Homo sapiens: one gene and its partners. The protein of the gene in region 1 purifies or fractionates together with the protein of each later gene. This does not show direct contact. Each region holds a gene or a part of one and is shown in the gene's direction. Other genes may lie near its edges.

Evidence for each region.
Region 2: the proteins of CIDEA (region 1) and PKP1 purify together in Homo sapiens (affinity purification with mass spectrometry; 3 studies listed by BioGRID and IntAct, with this or other methods). This does not show direct contact.
Region 3: the proteins of CIDEA (region 1) and SERPINA12 purify together in Homo sapiens (affinity purification with mass spectrometry; 3 studies listed by BioGRID and IntAct, with this or other methods). This does not show direct contact.

What each region holds. Positions count from the first base shown.
Region 1 is NC_000018.10:12,249,372-12,257,789, forward strand, and holds the start of CIDEA (lipid transferase CIDEA), read left to right. Parts: upstream 1-4,989; 5' UTR 4,990-5,012; coding exon 5,013-5,050; exon of another isoform or gene 5,051-5,445; coding exon of another isoform or gene 5,446-5,585; intron 5,586-5,641; exon of another isoform or gene 5,642-6,060; intron 6,061-6,207; exon of another isoform or gene 6,208-8,085; intron 8,086-8,418. UniProt on the Homo sapiens protein: Lipid transferase that promotes unilocular lipid droplet formation by mediating lipid droplet fusion. Lipid droplet fusion promotes their enlargement, restricting lipolysis and favoring lipid storage.
Region 2 is NC_000001.11:201,328,506-201,333,489, forward strand, and holds the end of PKP1 (plakophilin-1), read left to right. Parts: intron 1-256; coding exon 257-331; 3' UTR 332-363; intron 364-1,568; 3' UTR 1,569-4,484; downstream 4,485-4,984. UniProt on the Homo sapiens protein: A component of desmosome cell-cell junctions which are required for positive regulation of cellular adhesion.
Region 3 is NC_000014.9:94,492,470-94,499,469, reverse strand, and holds part of SERPINA12 (serpin A12 precursor), read left to right. Parts: intron 1-1,039; 5' UTR 1,040-1,072; coding exon 1,073-1,706; intron 1,707-2,826; coding exon 2,827-3,097; intron 3,098-7,000. UniProt on the Homo sapiens protein: Adipokine that modulates insulin action by specifically inhibiting its target protease KLK7 in white adipose tissues.

The sequences.
Region 1 (8,418 bases):
TGCAGATGCCCAGGCAGACCTCCTGGTCAGGCTTCAAATCCCACCTTCCACACCTGTTCCTGGGAGATGAAGTTTGTACCCATGGTCATCTGTCCCTCTGCCACTCCATTCAGATGTGTCCACGTCTCCATGGCCCCTCCATCCAAGAGAAAGCAACACACATGTGCAACCAGGAAACATACAAAAGTGCCTTGCAGCCTTGTGGATCCTTACCGGCCAGATAGCCATGGGCTGTGGAATGGAACATAAATATCACACAATGCAGTTTTCCTTGGCAGCAAAAATGAGCAAACAAATAACATACATAATAAAATGAATAATTTCACAGGCACAATGAAGAGTGAACAAAACCAGGCACAAATGAGAACACCCTGCGTGATTCTATTTATACAAAGTTCAAGAATACGCAAAATGAACCTGTTGTAATGGAAGGCAAAACAGTGTGATCTCCCAATGAGATACCATCTCACACCAGTTAGAATGGCAATCATTAAAAAGTCAGGAAACAACAGGTGCTGGAGAGGATGTGGAGAAATAGGAACACTTTTACACTGTTGGTGGGACTGTAAACTAGTTCAACCATTGTGGAAGTCAGTGTGGTGATTCCTCAGGGATCTAGAACTAGAAATACCATTTGACCCAGCCATCCCATTACTGGGATATACCCAAAGGATTATAAATCATGCTGCTATAAAGACACATGTACACGTATGTTTATTGCAGCACTAATTCACAATAGCAAAGACTTGGAACCAACCCAAATGTCCAACAATGATAGACTGGATTAAGAAAATGTGGCACATATACACCATGGAATACTAAGCCATAAAAAATGATGAGCTCATGTCCTTTGTAGGGAGGGACATGGATGAAATTGGAAATCATCATTCTCAGTAAACTATCGCAAGGACAAAAACCAAACACCGCATGTTCTCACTCATAGGTGGGAATTGAACAATGAGAACACATGGACACAGGAAGGGGAACATCACACTCTGGGGACTGTGGTGGGGTGGGGGGAGGGGGGAGGGATAGCATTAGGAGATATACCTAATGCTAAATGACGAGTTAATGGGTGCAGCACACCAGCATGGCACATGTATACATATGTAACTAACCTGCACATTGTGCACAGGTACCCTAAAACTTAAAGTATAATAATAATAAAATAAAATAAAATAAACAGTGTGATCTCCAGTGTGGGGTGGGTGGTACGGCCTTGAAGGGGCAAAGGGAGCCTAATGGGCACTGCAAATATTCTGTCTTGATCCAAGCAGTTTATGAACATAAACATTCACACAAAGATCTGTGCATTTTCGCAGATGCACATTATTCTGCAGTACAATTGTTCTTAATTTTTTAAAGCCCAGCATGAACCAACTGGTAGCCCAAGGGCAAGGAGCAGCCCGTGGGGCAGCCTCCTGAGCACAGGGCTGGACAGAGAGGGCGGGGGAATGGACCTGGTGGAGAGCTAACCAGTGAGATGCTCAGAAAATGCTTGCTGAGTGGGACAGCAATCATTTACACCTTAGTATAAATAACTATAGAAAGTTTTTTCAAACAGGGAGGCTGGAAGCTATACGGAAATAGGAGGACACTTGGCTTTGGCAAATAGCAGAGCAAATTGAAATAAATTATTTGCCTTACTGACCATTCTGCTGAAGATGCCCTGGCTATGTGTTTAACGGTGTTTGGATTAGTCCTCTTCCAGTGCTTGATGGTTCACAATGTATTTCAAAAGCATTACCTCACTCGACTCTCACTGCACCCCACTGAAACTTGGTAAAAAGTGCATGTCATCAGGGATCAGTAGGAATAAAGAAACTGAAGCTCAAAAAGGAAAGTTCCCACAGTGACAGAATTTGAAAGTAGCAAGGCCAAAGTTCAGGGATGATTGTTTCCTCCACCAAAAAAAAACAAAAACAGAAATTGGATTAGAAACTGGAGTTTCTTTGAACCCTAAGCACCGATGTTTATAACGTATTGCGGTAAGTGGGAATCAATTTCTGTTTCAGGCACGCGCTCTTGGCTAGGAGTAGGGAGTGGAGCCGTTCATTGCTGTCGTGGTCAGTCCCACTCACGCTGCTGGAGCTGACCAGGCCGGCCCTTCCCTCATGGCATTTGAGTCTCACACACCCTGTGAGACAGACAGGCCGCTGCCCTGTGACAGATGAAGATCTGAGGCTTGGGGTAGTTATGTGACTGGCCCAAGGTCACCCAGCTAGAGGAGGCAAAACCAGGCTAGGAACCTAGGTCTCTGCACTCCAGAGCATGGGCTGTGCCCAGCACATGCTGAGACTCGGGGAGTGGGGAGGCATCCATACTTTGGAGAAAGAGCAGAGCCCACTGTGGCATCACCCCACAGATACTGCTGGGAGCCGAGGGAAGGCAATGCTGAGGTCCCTCCCTGAGGGTGTGGGTGTCAGGTGGAGCCCACTGTTCACAGCTGCACAGGCTCTGTGACAACAAACATTTGGTGAATTGAACTAAAAAGCTGGGTTCCCAATCCTGGTTGCCCGGGCACAGAGTAGTTGTTGAACATGGATGAATGAAACCTGTCGAGTGAGAGTGGAATGAATTTGTGTGCTGGAGACGAGAATATGCTGGAAGGCTGGGCATGACTCGCACTGTTGTCTTCTCCATCATCTGTTGGGTTTGCAGCCAAGTCCCCTGGAGCTCAGTCTGCCCTCTGCCCTCTCCCACCTCTCCCCACCACCCTCCTAGCGCAGCACTCCAGGATTCCCACTCAGCAGCAGGGCAGTGACCGACTTTTACTCCCAGCCTGAAGATCTGCATGAGAACCAATGCACACCAGGGCTATGCTGCCTCCGTGACCAAGGGGTCCCCAGGGCCTGGTCTCACCACCATCTCCGCTTCCACCACAGACTTGCTCCCGTCCAGGATTCCTCATCTCTCCAGTCTCCCAAGCTCAAAACCCCAGGGTGATCTCCTGCTGGGTCCCTTCTGCCATCGCCATGGCCTGGAAATGTTTGCTAGTCCCCACCCCACCCCCATGTCCACACTCAGTGCCCAGGTCTTTATTTTTATTTTGTTAGAAGTGATAATGTCACTATGGTTATGTATGAGATCATGTCCTTGTTTCTCCAGAGATGCAAGCTAAAGGATTTAATTTGGAAGGGTTCAAATTCAAATATAAAGAACAAAGAAATATGTCAAAATGTTAACAGTGGTTGAATCCAGGGGCTGGGTGTAAGTGTGCTCATTGTACTGTTCTCTCTTATCTATCTATCTATCTATCTATCTATCTATCTATCTATCTATCTTATATATAGATAGATAGATATATACACACAAACAGATTTTTTTCTTTCTTTAGAGAGAAAGTCTCACTCTGTTGCCCATATTGGAGTGCAGTGACATGATCACAGCTCACTGCAACCTCAAACTCCTGGGCTCAGGTGATCCTCCCTCCTCAGCCTCCTGAGTAGCTAGCACTACAGGTGCTCGCCGTCATGCTTGGCTAATTATCGTTATTTTTGTGTAGAGATAGTAGTCTCACAGTGTTACCCAGGCTGGTCTCAAATTCCTGGCTTCAAGCCATCCTCCTGTTTTGGCCTCCCAAAGTACTGGGATTACAGATGTAAGCCAGTACCCTCAGCCCTGTTCTTTCTATGTATCTCTATATTTGAACTTTTTCACAATAAAAAGGTTAGAGGTAAGTTGACCTGAATTGATTGGACCCATTTTCTCATCCATCACATTGGGGCTGTGAGTGGGAGGGGCAGTGAATGACCTCCTAAAGCTGTGTCCGCTCAGTGCCTCTGGGGGAAGCTGCCCCCTGTGAGCCTGGAGCTGGGTGTTCCCAGCAGGCGGAGTCCTTGACTCTGGAAGGCAATTGCCTTTGGCTTCAACAGTCCTGCAAGTCACAAGGCTTGTTGACCACGGTGACCCTTTCTGAGAGCCAGCGGAGGAAGAGGGCGGGCATAGGGTCAGGTCTTAAGAGATCAGGTCAGTCTGCTCAAACCAGGTGGGCTCAGGAGGAGCCGGCGAGGGTCCCGCTGCAGCTCCCGAAACGCTGTTTCCAGGCGGCAGTCAGCAGTTGGGCACGAGAGGATATCCTAGCAAGCCTCCATCCCAGAAAGTTACACCTCTTACTGCCCGAGTCCCACCCCTCAACACTGAGCCCACCTCTTCAGTCCTGTAGTGAGGGGTTCTGGGAACCCCTTGTAACTGCCCGCCTTCCTCGGAGGTCTCAGAGGCCCTAATTGCGTCTTCCGATGGGAACAACCATGAGAGCAGGGTGTGGACGGAAGTCCCCCAGCCCCAGCGGGGTTCACTCTTTGCCTCCTCACTCTGCGAGGGTCCCTTACTACAGCTAAAAGGCAATTCATGCAGTCCAAAGGCTCCTTTCCCCTCCCGTTCTGCATGCCCTTCTCACTGTCCCCAAATGCTCATGACATGGCCTTGAGAGCAGCGCAGCGGGCAGGAAGCCCAGGCGCCTCGGAGAACCTGAAGGGCTGCAGGTCCCGGTGTCTGCGGCAGCTTCCGCATCCCTGCAGGGAACCAGCGGCTCGCTGAGCCTGGGGCTGGGCTCTGGGGGACTCCAGAGCTGGAGGCAAGTGGCGCTCACATCCGTCTCCTCACCTGCCCCACCCGTGGCCTGGGTTTAAAATCCACATACCCGTCTTTCCGCGGCCAAAGTGATGCTGCCAGGATTGGTTATGACCCCAACTGCCCCGACCCCCAGAAGTGCAAAACGAACAGGCTGGCAAGTGACCAAAAGAGACCCGGGGAGCATCTGGGCTTCCAAGGTCCTCGGTACGGCCCAAGGCAGCGAAGGACGCGCGGCTCCAGGCTGCGGGAGCCAGGACGACCGGGGGCTCCCAGAGCGCGAAGTCGCGATCCTCGGCGGTGGAGAGCTCGTGCCAAAACGTCCTCCCCTGCGCCAGTCAGGCCTTCGCGGGGCTGGCAGGCGGGCGGGGGCGGGGCCGCCGCACTTTAAGAGGCTGTGCAGGCAGACAGACCTCCAGGCCCGCTAGGGGATCCGCGCCATGGAGGCCGCCCGGGACTATGCAGGAGCCCTCATCAGGCGAGTGCCCCGCGTCCCCCTGATTGCCGTGCGCTTCCAATCGCCTTGCGTTCGGTGGCCTCATATTCCCCTGTGCGCCTCTAGTACCGTACCCCGCTCCCTTCAGCCCCCTGCTCCCCGCATTCTCTTGCGCTCCGCGACCCCGCGCACACACCCATCCGCCCCACTGGTGCCCAAGCCGTCCAGCCGCGCCCGCGGGCAGAGCCCAATCCCGTCCCGCGCCTCCTCACCCTCTTGCAGCTGGGCACAGGTACCAGGTGTGGCTCTTGCGAGGTGCGCGGGCGTCTGCAAACCAGGTGACAGCTGGCGAGTGGCTGCATGCATCTCTGGCCGCTGCTGCAGTCGCGGGCGCAGAAGAGGGTCCGGTCCCAGGAACCCCGAGCAAAGCTTCCGCGATGCGAGGGGACCGGGCTTCTGGGGGTCCTGGAAATCACAACGGGAGCTGGGCGCGGGAGGGGCCCAGGCTTGGCCCCTCCTGGAAGCGCGGGCTCTGGTCTCCGAGGGGAGGCCCCAACCGTCCGGCGGAGCCCTCCAGGTTGGTGGTGCTGGGAGAAGCGCTCCTCCTTGCCTCCGGGTCCAAGGGCGGAGACGCTGCCTGGGGAGCAGGGGGGACAAGGGGCGGGTGGACCCTGAGGAGTCTTCCCTGCGCTTCGCACCCGCTCGTGGTCGAACAGGCAGCATTGGCTATTTTCCTGCTTGGGTTAATATTCATATCCCAACAGACCCAAGCCAATTCTTGGTAAAATCCTAAGTCATTGCGTGGCAGCAACTGTAAAGTAAGGTCTAAGAGGGAGATCGTGTTTCTCTGAAGATCAAGTACCTGGAAAAGGATAGAGAACCATTTGCGGGCTTGAAGGTGCAGGCGTTCAGCGGCGCCGGGTCCCACTGTGTGTGCTACGTGTGGCGGGCAGAGAGACTACATGTGTGAAAGGGAGCGGTCCGGCTACGAAACGCAATCTATGAGCTTCCAATCCCGGGTTCTTAAATGGGAGCTGTTGTAGACACTGCAGGTTAGAAGCATCTTTCTCTTTAAAAATAAGCCCACAGTACAAGTCGGGGCGGTGGCAGGGGGACGCTGAGAAACACCTGCTTCGTGTATGGTCATTAACACGCTTAGGCCTAAAGGTCAGGGCCCTGTATCTTTTGCGTTCTTCCAGAACCATCCACACCACAGTCCCACTTCCAGGAGGGGAGGTCTTAGCAGTTTGGAATGCGTCCTTCCAACCACTTTTCCAGTGAATTCACAACACACCCACTGTTCCTCCGGAGCATGGGGGAAGGAGGTGTGGGCTGACTCGCACTAACCAATCCTGGTTGGCCTCTGAGCAGGATTCAGGCTGAGCCTGTCCCTGCCTCTGACTATTATAACAGCTCACCAAAATCCAAAATGCATCTGTGTGGGGTCTCTGTGAGGTCGTGTGAAGTGGAAGTGACTTGCTTATGAGCTGTTGACAAATGAAACATTGGGAAACCTTGAGTCTCCTAGGACACATTCCTTCCAGCTTGGCTCATCCCAGGAGTGAATGACTCTACCTGTTATGGACAAGCTGTTGCTGCAGTTCTTTGAAATCTACCTGCTTCCAGGCTGAACTACTGTCATTCTGTGAAATCTACCTGCTCCCAGGCTGAACTACTGTCATTCTGTGAAATCTACCTGCTCCCAGGCTGGACTACTGTCATTCTGTGAAATCTACCTGTTACCAAACTAAACTGGAAGAAAACAATCTGTAATTCTTGTTGAAGGGAAAACACCTTTTCTTCCCTGCCCCTCTCTAAAACCCTGTCCGGGCAAAAGAGCCAGAGGCCAGGTCCTAACATATTTGCTAATTGTGCTCTTGCTGGACTTCGGCTTCCTCTCAGGGTTCCTTAATTTAAACCAGGTCCAGGATGTCATAATTCTGTCTTTATTAGTAACTACATTTTACCAAGGAAAGAACCGAATCAATGTGCACAAAAATTTTTAAAAATCAGGTACTTGTAGTCAGTGGTGAAACCTTAACCCAGGCATTTGTTAGTCAGCTAGAATCGTTAGGGGCCTTGGTCCTGAGGAAAGCAGCCTGAGGTCTCACAACAAAGCTCCAGACATCAAGGAGGTCCACATGCAGGTTGACTATCACAGACAAAGTCTGCTCTGTTCCTGTGTTCTGCCAGTGATAACATTCCTGCCAAACGCTGAAGTTGTTATGAAGCTGGTACATGTTATAAGCTTCGTGTGAAATGGCTGCTTTCATAGCTATCTAGCACATTTTTCCTTTCCTTGAACAAGGAACTCTAGGTTTTGTGCTGCTATTTCAGTACAAATTTCACCAGTCTTCTTAGTGACATTAGTAAGGAATTAAGTATGCTACAAGTCAATCTCTCAGCTTTCTGCTTCTTGAATTTAAATTCTTATTTTAACGAAACTGCAAAGTGTTCAAAGACTTCATGGTCATGTATTGAACACTTGATAATGTCAAGCCTTTAGGTAGCTTGCGAAGAACTGAGCCATGAACCAGGCAGTCCTTGTCGGGGCGAGTTTATCTGGGGGGTAGGTGTGCTCCCACCTGCATATGTCACGTCCAAGAGCCCTAGGGGAGCCGGGCAGCAGGAAGTCTCGTCAAGGCAGCACTTGCTTCCCTGCTTCCTGCCACTGACCCCACCATCCTCTGACACTGTCTCTACAGCTCAGGGACTCTTCTCCAGGCCTGTGGAGCACTTTCCCAGCCCTCCCTTCCTTCTCTGCGTGGCTGTGCTTGACCTCACACTTCCCTCCTTGGCATTCCCTGCTGCTCTTGGTGACAGTGCTCGGTTGGCTTCTGTCCAATTCCTGTGTACTGCTTCTTCCTCCCACGGTGGCTGCCTCTTTTTCTTCCTAATGATGAGATGCAGAGTTCCCTCAGCCATCACTGCCCCCTGAATATTCCCAGGCACTATTTTACACAGCCTGTACTGCTGCCCCCTCACCCATGACACCAAAATATTTCACTTTGAGGAAGACCTTAATACTGGGCCCTTTTCCTCCATAGGTGGCATGTAAAGAAAGCTTTTTAATTCTCTGTACGGCTCAGGTTTGTTTTACTGGAGAAGAGTTCAGGTCTACTGTCAGTCTGTGGCTTGTTGGTGTATTTCACACACTTTTGGAAGTTGGCGGCGCCCTGCCTCCCTCGGGGCAGAATACAAAACCTTCCCTTCCCACCTGTTCCTGAGAGACATGCCGTTTCACAGCGTTCTATGAAGTCTGACTTTTCCTCTCTGGATTTCTGTGAAACAGCCTACTTCCTTAAACAAACTGTTTCCTTATATCTTCCCTGTTAGAGGGTTATTTCCCTTTCTGTTTCCTGTGGTTGTGTGCCCCCACTTTCACAGGAATTAGGAGCGGCAGTTCTCAT
Region 2 (4,984 bases), on another chromosome or scaffold:
CTCAGGTTTCTGCAAATGCAAGTAGGAAATTCACATGTGTCAGTGGAAGTTCAAACACATTGCACCGACTCATGGAGAGTTATTATGTTTTGTTACACAGTTACTGAGGCCAGTTTTCGCCCTGACACATGTACTTAGTGATAAGAGAGAGGCTGTGTGAGCCGAGGTTGCTCTGGGAGGGCAGTGGACAGTGTCTGACCCCACAGCAAGCCCCACACAGTTTTGTGTCATTTGGTTGCTGTTTCTCCCTTTGCAGCAAGGTTTCGATAGGAACATGCTGGGAACCTTAGCTGGGGCCAACAGCCTCAGGAACTTCACCTCCCGATTCTAAGAAGAGACTGTCCAAGCAAGTTAGGCTTGCAGGTAAGAATCACCCCACCCTCAGGGATGCCTCTGGGACCACTGCAACAGCCTCAGCCAGTCTCAGAGACAAGGGCTAGGCCTGTGCTCCCAGGGACACAGAAGCATCCTTTTGCCTGGCTCTGGACAACACAAGCAGTTGTGTAGACTGCTTGGCTGGGGGCGTAGTTTGTCCCACCCTCAGGACGTTAGGGGTGTATAATGTCCTGGGAGTTTCAGAGGGGTCAGAGGGTCTGGGCAGGACTGCTAGGTACAAATGTGTGGGTTGTACACTGAACAACACAGGTGGTGCCCTTCACATGGACTACAGTGAGTTCTACAATATGGATAACTGGAGTTCTAGAATATGTCATTCTGGGCTTGGCCATACACAGCTCACTTTTTTATCCTTTTATAATTCACTTTCCACTCTCTGCACATGCCCAGTGTGGACAAGTTTATTTCCAGCTGATGATTCTAGGCCCCCAAAACTCAGAACCAATCCTATGATGAAGGCTTGCCAACCTCAGTGTTCATTGGAATTATATGGGTTGCTTGCTAAAATGCACACACTTGGCCCAGCCCCAGCTATTCTGACTCAATAGCCCTGGAGTGGGATCCAGGAAAGTCTATTTTTAAACAAGCGTCTAAAGTGTTTCTGATGCGGGTAAACTGAGAATCACAAATAGAGATACTCCAGCCAGATGTCATCACCCCTAGAGAGGGGCCTCAGGGGCAGCCCAGCATGGAGCCATCTGCAAATAGCCTGGGATCAAGACAGGGTCTCCTGAGCTAAGGGGGACCTCTTAACCAGGCTGTCTGCCAGCACCCCCCACCCCAATCCCTGGTGGGGAGAGAGGACTGTAACTTTGGTCTGGATGAAGGTTAAATAAGACTTCAGATATCCTCTCCTAGTAAACAAGCTGCAACAACTTGAAGGCAGAAAAGGGGAAAGAGATTCGGTTTGGCAAATCCTTAATGAACACCACCTTCTTTCTTAGTGAGGAAGACGGTGGGCAGGGGACACTGTGGCAGGGTGGCAGACAAAGCTGACAAGCTTCTGAATCCACAGGGCAATCTATAAATGTGTCTAGGGCAGCCTTGAATCCAGTCTCAGGCCAGGGCACACTTGAGGGCCGATGTGAGAAGAGGGTGGCAGTACAGGCTGGGCTTGTGGTGTGGAAACATCTCACTGTAAACACTAACTGGAGGACTTTCTCCTTTTCCAGGAAGATATGACCCAGCTGAGAAGCCCTCAGGCCTCGCTGGATGGGGTTTTCTGTCCATCCTATGCAGTATTTGGGAAAGTTCACAAGAAACTGAGAAGAAACCTAAAAACTGTGGATAGTGGAAAGATTTTTAGATTTTTTTTTTCCTTGGGGAAACTGGCAGGCAATGGGGGTTAGGGAGGTTGGGGCGGTGGGGGCTTTCTTGAGTTAAAGGGGCTTATATGTGATGTCAATATTTCTTCCTCTGAGAAATGGTATATATATGTGTATAATGTAAGTGTGTGCATGCATGTGCGCGTGCATGTGTGTGTGTGTGAGTGTCTTAAAGCATAACCACAAACTGCAAAAAGCTAGGTAAGCTATTTTGTTGCAGCTCATAAGGTGGTGAAAAGGACTCTCCTGTGTTTCTTACTCATAGGCAAGGACAACATGTGCTTTTTGGTGAGCTGCTCATAATTCCTGAAATGTGTGGTGCCAGGGCAAGGGGGCCATCACTGCAGTCAGGCCCTCAGAGGAGTCCTGCAGGCTTCCTACCAGTGGTCTCCAGGGGTGCAGGAGTAACTGGGGCTGGGCCAGCCTCCCCACTTACAAGGCTGCTTTCCAGGAAGGGAGGTCTGGTGTATCTCATGGGAGAATCTGGGGTGTCTGTAATGTCACCCCTCCAGCAGCGCCACAAGGACTGAGGTTGGGTAGGTGTGGGGTTCCAGAGGACAGCAGGACACTCTCGCATACTTTGCCAAATGAGGCCTGCTCAGAGGAGTAGGAGCTGAAAGATGGTGCCTTCCACCCTCTTGGGCTGTGTGCCCATCAGAGCAGGCTCAGCCTGCAAAGGCCCTGCATTCAGAGGTCTTGTAATCTACTTGTTGCAGGAGAAAGAAGGTAAAAAATGATTTTTTTAAGAAAAGCTATTTTATTGCAGCTCTTTCCCAAGAGCTGTTCTGGGAATGGCTGGTCTTCATATTCCCAGTGGAGAGGGGAACAAGTGGGGCTGGGCATATACCTATTCCGGCTTCTAGTGGGATGGAGTTGGGGTATAGAAATTAACCAGGAAGATGTTTCCACCAAGCCTGCTGTGAGTCAATTGAGGGAGTGTTTGGGGTCCCAGGAGACTTGGACGGGGGGAGTTTGGGTAGACTAGGAAAGGAAAGTGCCATATCAGGGTACCGGTACCGGCAAGCTCACATCTCAGCCAGGGGCCATGCCCCACTTCCCCTGACCCCAGCTGTCTTGTCTCCACTCTGTGAAACCCACAGGGGATGTGATAAACAGGGCTATTAGGGGTATCAGCCACGTCGAGCCCCCAGACTCTGTGCACTTCAGACCAGCAGCAGCAGGAGGGCTCCCGAGGGCCTTATGAGAAAACCTGTGTGGACATCCCTTGGTGTACACTAAGACAGAGCAGAGCCCAGCGCTCCCAAGCCTTCCTCCTTCCAGCTTCTACCTCCATGCTAGCATTGCTGGTGTTAGAGAGGAATTAACTTCCTGGTCTGTGCCCTTCTCTAGAAGAATATAAGATGCTCCTCCTCCTCACCCCTTCTCAGCCTCCTCCCAAGTCTTCCTCTTCTGCACCACCCCCGAGTCCAAACCCACCTCTTGCCCCAGCATTCAGGCTGGAAAACACTGATGTGGACTCAGTATGATAACTGAGATGGGGGACGCCAGACATGTGAGGACGCTGTCCTCCGAGAGGTGTCCCCGGCTGTTAGCCAGCTGTGCTGTGGTGCTGTGGGTCTGTCATACCCTCCCTTGCTTCTGTTCACACTGGGAGGCCCACTCCTGGCTCACCTCTCCCTCTCAGGGACCCACGTGGGAGCCTGGATCCCTGGACTGTCCTGGGCATAGGTTTCAGGGGCCTCCTTTGTTGTCATCAGAACCCAGAGGAATTCTTCTCCTAAAAAATACGTATGGCATACCAATCTGTGCGGGGCAGTGTCCTAAGCACTTAGACTACATCAGGGAAGAACACAGACCACATCCCTGTCCTCATGCGGCTTATGTTTTCTGGAGGAAAGTGGAGACACAAGTCCTTGGCTTTAGGGCTCCCCCGGCTGGGGGCTGTGCAGTCCGGTCAGGGCGGGAGGGGAAATGCACCGCTGCATGTGAACCTTACCAGCCCAGGCGGATGCCCCTTCCCCTTAGCACTACCCTGGCCTCCTGCATCCCCTCGCCTCATGTTCCTCCCACCTTCAAAGAATGAAGAGCCCCATGGGCCCAGCCCCTGCCCTGGGAACCAGGCAGCCTTCCAGACCTCAGGGGCTGAGGCAGACTATTAGGGCAGGGCTGACTTTGGTGACACTGCCCATTCCCTCTCAGGCCAGCTCAGGTCACCCGGGCCTCTGACCCAGGCCTGTCACTTTGAGAGGGGCAAAACTGAGAGGGGCTTTTCCTAGAGAAAGAGAACAAGGAGCTTGCCAGGCTTCATGTAGCCGACACACGTCTCAGGATTTTAAGTCCACATTGGCCTCACACTACCAGGGCCAATGCCCAAAATAAGGAGTTCCAATTTGGGGCCAAATGAGGAAGGACACAGACTCTGCCCTGGGATCTCCTGTGCTAGCGGCCAATGACAAATCCAGTCATTGGCCACCAGCCACCTCTGCAGTGGGGACCACACTAGCAGCCCTGACTCCACACTCCTCCTGGGGACCCAAGAGGCAGTGTTGCTGTCTGCATGTCCACCTTGGAATCTGGCTGAACTGGCTGGCAGGACCAAGACTGCGGCTGGGGTGGGCAGGGAAGGGAAGCCGGGGGCTGCTGTGAGGGATCTTGGAGCTTCCCTGTAGCCCACCTTCCCCTTGCTTCATGTTTGTAGAGGAACCTTGTGCCGGCCAGGCCCAGTTTCCTTGTGTGATACACTAATGTATTTGCTTTTTTTGGAAATAGAGAAAATCAATAAATTGCTAGTGTTTCTTTGAACTTTTTCGAGGAGTGGATTCTTTGGGGTGCTGTTGAGGGATGAAGGGGCTACTCATTTCCTTCCATGATCTCCTCTTACCCTGTACCAGGCAAGGACTGAGAATGCCACCCGGGGGCACAGGGACAGCGCTATCCATGGACACCTGCTCTACAGCAGCACATCGAGCCTCACCGCAGCTCCATGACACTAGGATTGCTGTCCTGATTTTTAAAATAAGTAAAGCGAGACTTAGGGAAGGAACAAATACCCCCAGGGTCACACAGCTTGTAAATGTCCCCAAGCCTGAACCCATCCAGGTGGGGCATCTGTAGGAAAGAGAAATTCAAAGATGAAGGTCAAGGAGTTGGTGTTTATTTAGTTTTATTTATTTACTTTTTGAGACAGGGGTTTTGCTCTGTTGCCCAGGCTGGAGTACAGGGATGAGATCATGGCTCAAAGAGGGCTCAACCTCCCAGGCTCAAGCAATCCTCCCAGCTAAGGCTCCCAACTATGGGTCTCA
Region 3 (7,000 bases), on another chromosome or scaffold:
AAATCAATAAGCTTTTTAGGCCAACATGCTTTTAGCATCTCTCTGCAGAATTAGGGCTGGAGATTAAGGGAAAACGTAGCTAAAAGTCTTGTCTCCCAGAAGCTCACAGTGGCCGTTGGAAGATGTCAAAGCTGAGAGGTGGATGAAAGGAGCAGCAGTCCAGAGCCAGGCAGACCTGGCTGTTCCTCTCCCATGGTGCCATCCTCTTCCCTCCCTGGGAAGGGTGTAGGGAAGAAGGTTTCCTGGAGATCTAAGTCCTCCTGGAATGAGTATCCACCACCTAGAGAACATATGAGCTTAAACAAAGAGCTTGATCTCTGTAAATTAGTCATAATTCTTTTGGCTGAAGGGGAAAAATTTACCTCAAACCAGCCAACTCTAAAAGGGAAATTTATTGGCTTTCATAACTTGGAAACATGGAAGTGGGTAGCAAACTGAGTTAAAGGTTAGTCCAGGGTCTCCAAAGATGTCATCAGATGTGTCAGTCCATTTCTGTCTTTCCACCTCCCTCTATCACTCTCCTCTCCTTCTACATGTGGAAACCATGGCCACATTCAGCTCCAGGGCTACTTCACAAAGCTAGCTGCCCCAAAGCTTAGGGGGTTTTGCATTCCCTTAGAAAGACACTGAGAGGTCTGATTTTGGTCCACACTCTCATCTTTAACCAGCCAGTGTGGCAAAGGAATGAAGTATTATGATGGTAGGTCTGGGCCATATGCCTACACTACGGGGTATCCTCACTGTGGTCCAATGGAGGGAAGGAGAGCTGTTCCTCAAAGGAATTGAGACACTGTTTCCATAAAGAGGGTACAAAAACAAGAGTTGTCTTCTACATTCAGTCCTCCTATTTACAAAGTGTAGAAGTCATTTCTAGTCCCCAGGGTGATTATAAAGTTTAAATGCTATAAAGGGGTCAAAGCACTCATAAACTGCTATGTACAACACATAATAGTCACTGTATTTCTTCTTTCATCTGGTCTTCCTCTGGGTAACATGTAGGCAATGGGGTTATCATGTTCTTTTTTTCTGCTGACCTCAGGTCTACTACTCAACAGGATATTCTTCAAGGAAAATGAACCCCACACTAGGCCTGGCCATTTTTCTGGCTGTTCTCCTCACGGTGAAAGGTCTTCTAAAGCCGAGCTTCTCACCAAGGAATTATAAAGCTTTGAGCGAGGTCCAAGGATGGAAGCAAAGGATGGCAGCCAAGGAGCTTGCAAGGCAGAACATGGACTTAGGCTTTAAGCTGCTCAAGAAGCTGGCCTTTTACAACCCTGGCAGGAACATCTTCCTATCCCCCTTGAGCATCTCTACAGCTTTCTCCATGCTGTGCCTGGGTGCCCAGGACAGCACCCTGGACGAGATCAAGCAGGGGTTCAACTTCAGAAAGATGCCAGAAAAAGATCTTCATGAGGGCTTCCATTACATCATCCACGAGCTGACCCAGAAGACCCAGGACCTCAAACTGAGCATTGGGAACACGCTGTTCATTGACCAGAGGCTGCAGCCACAGCGTAAGTTTTTGGAAGATGCCAAGAACTTTTACAGTGCCGAAACCATCCTTACCAACTTTCAGAATTTGGAAATGGCTCAGAAGCAGATCAATGACTTTATCAGTCAAAAAACCCATGGGAAAATTAACAACCTGATCGAGAATATAGACCCCGGCACTGTGATGCTTCTTGCAAATTATATTTTCTTTCGAGGTAAGGCTTTTGGCATGTTGGTGTGGAAAGAATAGGATGACCACTAGACTTGGGTTAAAAACCTGGGTTGGCCACTTGTTTACTCTGTGACCTTGAATTCATATGTGATTTATCTCTCAAAACCTCACTTTTCCTATCTGTAAAATGGTTACCATGATACATAACTCATACAGTTATTGAGATTTAAAGTGAAAATGTATGTGAAATGAGCTTTATGAAGTCTATCATTTTCATTATTGGTGATTATCCTAACACAACATTGGTTATAGAGGTTGGAATGACATTTTGTTCCCATCACTTAGATGAGAAAAAAAAATCAGAGTGAGATTAACTGACTTACTCCAAGTTACAAAGCCCATCATTGACAGTCAGGACTGGAACACATTTCTCCTGGCCCTAGCACTGTGTGCTTTCCAGCACTTTAAGCAGACACCTGAGATGGTGATTGTGTTGATTATGGTGATGGTGATCACTTGGTGGGTCTCCTTATGTATGTATTATATAAATTCTCCTTATCAGACTTTATATATTTCCCAGATCTGATGGAGAGAGACAGAAAAAAAAGATGGAAGAATGTTTCCAATTTCAACTTTATCCCCCAACACCACACAGAACACATGTACACAAACAGGTTGGCCAAAATAGGTGAGAATCAGAGGCCAACACCCATCAGTCCAGACAAAATCACTGCTGGAGTGTCAGGAACATGGTACTAAATATAAAAAATTGAGGGTTCTCAAAATCCACAGGCAGATTGATGGCTAAAGAAGAGTCTACTCACATCAGACTCAATTAGCCCTCATTAATTGTAATGCAGTCCCCTCTGTTAGGACATAATCAGTGGGCTTTCTCAGGCTTAGGGGAACCTGAGCTTATGGTAGTCTTCTTTTCCCCTCTTAATTTGGCAGTCTAGTCCTGGCTTCTTTGGGAACTAATAATTGCACCTGAGCCCATATCATCAGAAATCTCCAGGACATGGCATGAGGGCAAGGACTTCCCTGATATCCCGGAATATCCCCTTTCACCCTGAATCTGTGTGGAGAGAGACTACTGGTTAGTTGGATTTAGTCACCTTTTTTCCCTTGGGATAACATGTCTGTTTGTCTTTCTTCAATCTAAGCCAGGTGGAAACATGAGTTTGATCCAAATGTAACTAAAGAGGAAGATTTCTTTCTGGAGAAAAACAGTTCAGTCAAGGTGCCCATGATGTTCCGTAGTGGCATATACCAAGTTGGCTATGACGATAAGCTCTCTTGCACCATCCTGGAAATACCCTACCAGAAAAATATCACAGCCATCTTCATCCTTCCTGATGAGGGCAAGCTGAAGCACTTGGAGAAGGGATTGCAGGTGGACACTTTCTCCAGATGGAAAACATTACTGTCACGCAGGTAAAGTGGGTGCCTAGCCCTCGCAGCTTTTTCCTTCTCTTGTCTTCCCTCTTATTTCTGCTGTCTGAGCTCTTACCTCATGGCCAAGTCCTCTTCTGGGCTCTATAATAAACTTATATCATGGTGAGAATTAGACTGGGGAACAAATCATAGGAATAGAGTGAAGTGCCTGGCTCTTTGAGGGAGATTCATCAAGACTGTGAGGGCGCAGTAGATGGAGTCTTACTGGAGGGCGGTGGTCAGGGAGGACTTCATAGAGGAGATAGCATTTGAGCCAAGTCTTCAAGGGTGAGTGGCAGTCTGTATGAAAGGGTGAGGAGCAAAGGAAACTGCAAGGACAAACACGGGCTGTAAAAGAGAGCTGTGAGTTGTGAGTAGAATGATGTTGTCAACTGTGGTGTCACAACAAAACCCATGAAGTATCCAAAGTAAGTTATACAAATAATAGTTGAAGAATAAAAGAGAGTAAATATTTTTCTTTTTAAAACATAAACTGATATTAGATTAATGCTAAGCCTACAGAATTCCTCCCAGGCACTTGCTTACTGATAGATTTTGGGGGAAAAGGTAAGAGTTGGTGTTGGGTTTAAGTCTTGGGGACTTAGTGTCAGCGTGGACATACATAGTGCCTTGAAAGTGGCTGGGCTAGTGGCCTCTAGTAGCCAGAGCAGTGAAGGGGATGTAGCAGAGTGGGCAGTTTCCACTTGGACAGGTGTCAGATGTCCTCTTCTCTGTTCTCTTTCCCTCTTCCACCTTGTCCCTGTCATCATTCCCCATGCATCTCCATAAAGGTATTTACTAAGAACCTCTGCCACACCTAACGTCCTGTCAGGCACCAAGGACGGTACCAAGAGAGGTACAGATGATGCTAGGACTGAGCTTAGTAACCCATGGGTGGTAACTGAACTGATGCAACTCTTTTCATGCAGAACACTGTCTTGGAGGCATTCCAGAATGCATCTCTTATATCTAGAGTGAGCTGCAGACTTAAGAAAGGGAAATTCTGGCCGGGCGCGGTGGCTCACGCCTGTAATCCCAGCACTTTGGGAGGCCGAGGCGGGCGGATCACGAGGTCAGGAGATCGAGACCATCCCGGCTAAAACGGTGAAACCCTGTCTCTACTAAAAATACAAAAAATTAGCCGGGCGTAGTGGCGGGCGCCTGTAGTCCCAGCTACTTGGGAGGCTGAGGCAGGAGAATGGCATGAACCCGGGAGGCGGAGCTTGCAGTGAGCCGAGATCCCGCCACTGCACTCCAGCCTGGGCGACAGAGCGAGACTCCATCTCAAAAAAAAAAAAAAAAAAAAAAGAAAGGGAAATTCTGATTCCGAATGCTTCCAATTAAGTCATGGTACTGGGATGGAGGAGCCAAGTAGCAGAGCATCCCAAGAGCGTTGCCATCCCTTGAGATCTGCATAGTCTCACCTGCCCTTCCCACTGGGAACCAGGGAGGTGGAAGGGTTGGCAGAGTCTGGCCACTGAAACAAAAGGAGGGGTCCAGGTTACAACCTTTAGCTGAGACCTGGTCTTCTCATCTATGGTGTGTGGCCATAATATCGCCAACACCACAGTACTCTTGAGAGAATTAAATGTGCCTTAGCACAGCATTGCCCCACAGAAAACATATCCAAATGCAAATTCCTCTTTCCTTCCCATTGTCTAAAGAGGCAGAGCTCCAAGGTTCTCAGCAGAACTTTTGAACTTCTGGTTTATTGAATGACAGGTGTCCTGCAAATCTGACCCTCTTACCCTCAGGTTGAAGCCCTAGGGTGGCTGCTCTTCCACTGCAGAAGATGTTCCCAGTGGGAGGGGCGGGTGAGGCTGTGCAGATCTCGAGGGATGGCAGCGCTCTTGGAATGCCCTGTCACTTAGCTCCCCCCTTCCATAAATGTGACTTTATTGAAAGCATTCAGAACCAGAATTTTCCTTTCTCAAGCCTGCAGCTCACTCTAGATATCAGAGATGCATTCTGCAATGCCTCCAAGCCATGTTCCGTGTGAAAGGAGTCACATCAGTTCAGTTCAGTTACCACCCACGGGTTCCCCCATGTTGTCTCAACATGGGGACATCCCCAAAGGGACTGACGTGTTTCAGCCTGCACTCTACAGATTTTTAGAGTTCACAGAGATGTCTTGAGAGATCTCCCTAGGGAACTGGGGGGTGTAGAACATGAAGAGAAGGTAAGAAATGGGAGGGATGCCAGGTCTTCCACCCCACTTCATCCAGAAGTCTGGCTTTGTGAGACATGGACTCCAGAATATGACATTTCCCGTAGGACTCAAATTACAGTGGCTTGAGACTCTGCAGTTGATTTGCTGGAACTCACTGTCCTGAGTGCACTCCACCCCTATCTCCAAGCCATGTCTGACAATTTCTCCATGGGGCTACAGCTCAGGTGCTACACTGGGGGCTTCACATTCCCCTCACTGAGGCCCTCTGCAGCCCCTGGTGCTGTGACCACCATCAGGCCACCACCAACCACACAGATGTTCCCTGGGCACTGCCACCATCTCTCTGGCTTCAGGCTTCATCTCCTTTTGCACCTTTACACAAGAGTGAAATAGAACCTTTGAGATTTTCTGTAGGCTAGTGCCAGACTTCCTGGAGGTTTGGGAATAACAGAACCAAAGCTCCTCACAGGGACCCAGGATAACTTACAGCGCACAGAAGCGGCGTCTTGTGAAGTCCAAGTGTAAGCTGCTCTCAGTGGCGTCTCGTGAAGTCCAAGTGTAGAGTGTAGGCTGCTCTCAGTGGTGTCTTGTGGAGTCCAGGTGTAAAGTGCAGGCTGCTCTCAGTGGCGTCTTGTGAAGTCCAAGTGTAGGCTGCTCTCAGCATCTCTTCCAGGGCACCTCCTTCCATTTTTCTAGTGCCTGGTCTGCCTCCCCCATCCCTCTGGGACTGCTTTCCGCATCTCCTTGACTTGAGGCCAGGCCTCCCCACCAGGAGGGCCATAGAAAGGAAGGTTCCTCTCACCCCAGGGATGTCTTGCCTACCCAGTCACTTCTGGCCTTGGAATGACAGACAGGGTATTGTCCACCTTCCCGAGAAGAAACTCCAAATCCTCTTGCAGGACAGGGGGCTTGCTCACCGTCCCCAGGGAATTACATTTCATTAGAACATGATAGGAACAAACATTCCTACCTTCTGAGCTCATTATTTCTGGGAGATAAGTGGTCAAGTTGCTTTGATCTACAGGTGGGAAGCCTAGTCCAGAGAGCTCAGTGGCCCGCTATGGGAGAGCAGAGGTGGACGGGCTATCCCTATGCATTCTTTCTGCAGTCCTCTCCAGACTGGAGGGCCTAGAAGACACTGAGCAGAAAAATCACCTTTTCCCTAAAAGAAGTAACCAAGTCAACAGACACACACCAACTTACATGTGTGTAGAACATGTCAGAATTTAGGCTTCGGATGACTTCCACCTGGCCTCTGTGCAGGAGGCAGACACCTGCTTTGGATTTGCATAATTTGAGGCCAGGTGCTGCTCTGATTTCCCCAGAGGAAAAGCTCTGTTTCCCAGGGTCCACCTTTAGGAGCAGAAAACTGCTGGTGGCTTTGAAATAGCCATTGTCCTGTTCAGAAGTGTCGAGGGTCCACTCCCAGCCTGGGTGCCCCCCACACATTTCCGTACATATTGGTATATGCACTCACCTGTCAGCACAGCTGCACTTAGTGCCTTCCCACGTTGGCACAAACTAAAGCCGATCTCCTCATTTACGCACTGGACCTACGGCCCCCTGCTACTCAGGAACATCACCCTAGAAATCCTCTCCTCACTTTCCTACATCAGCATATGTTTTTCTCTCTTCTGAATCATTTCCATCAGATACAAAGATGCCCTTATCTTTCCTATCATGAAACCTCGCAGGGGGCCAGGGAAAACTTACAGCTCATAGAAGTGGCTTCT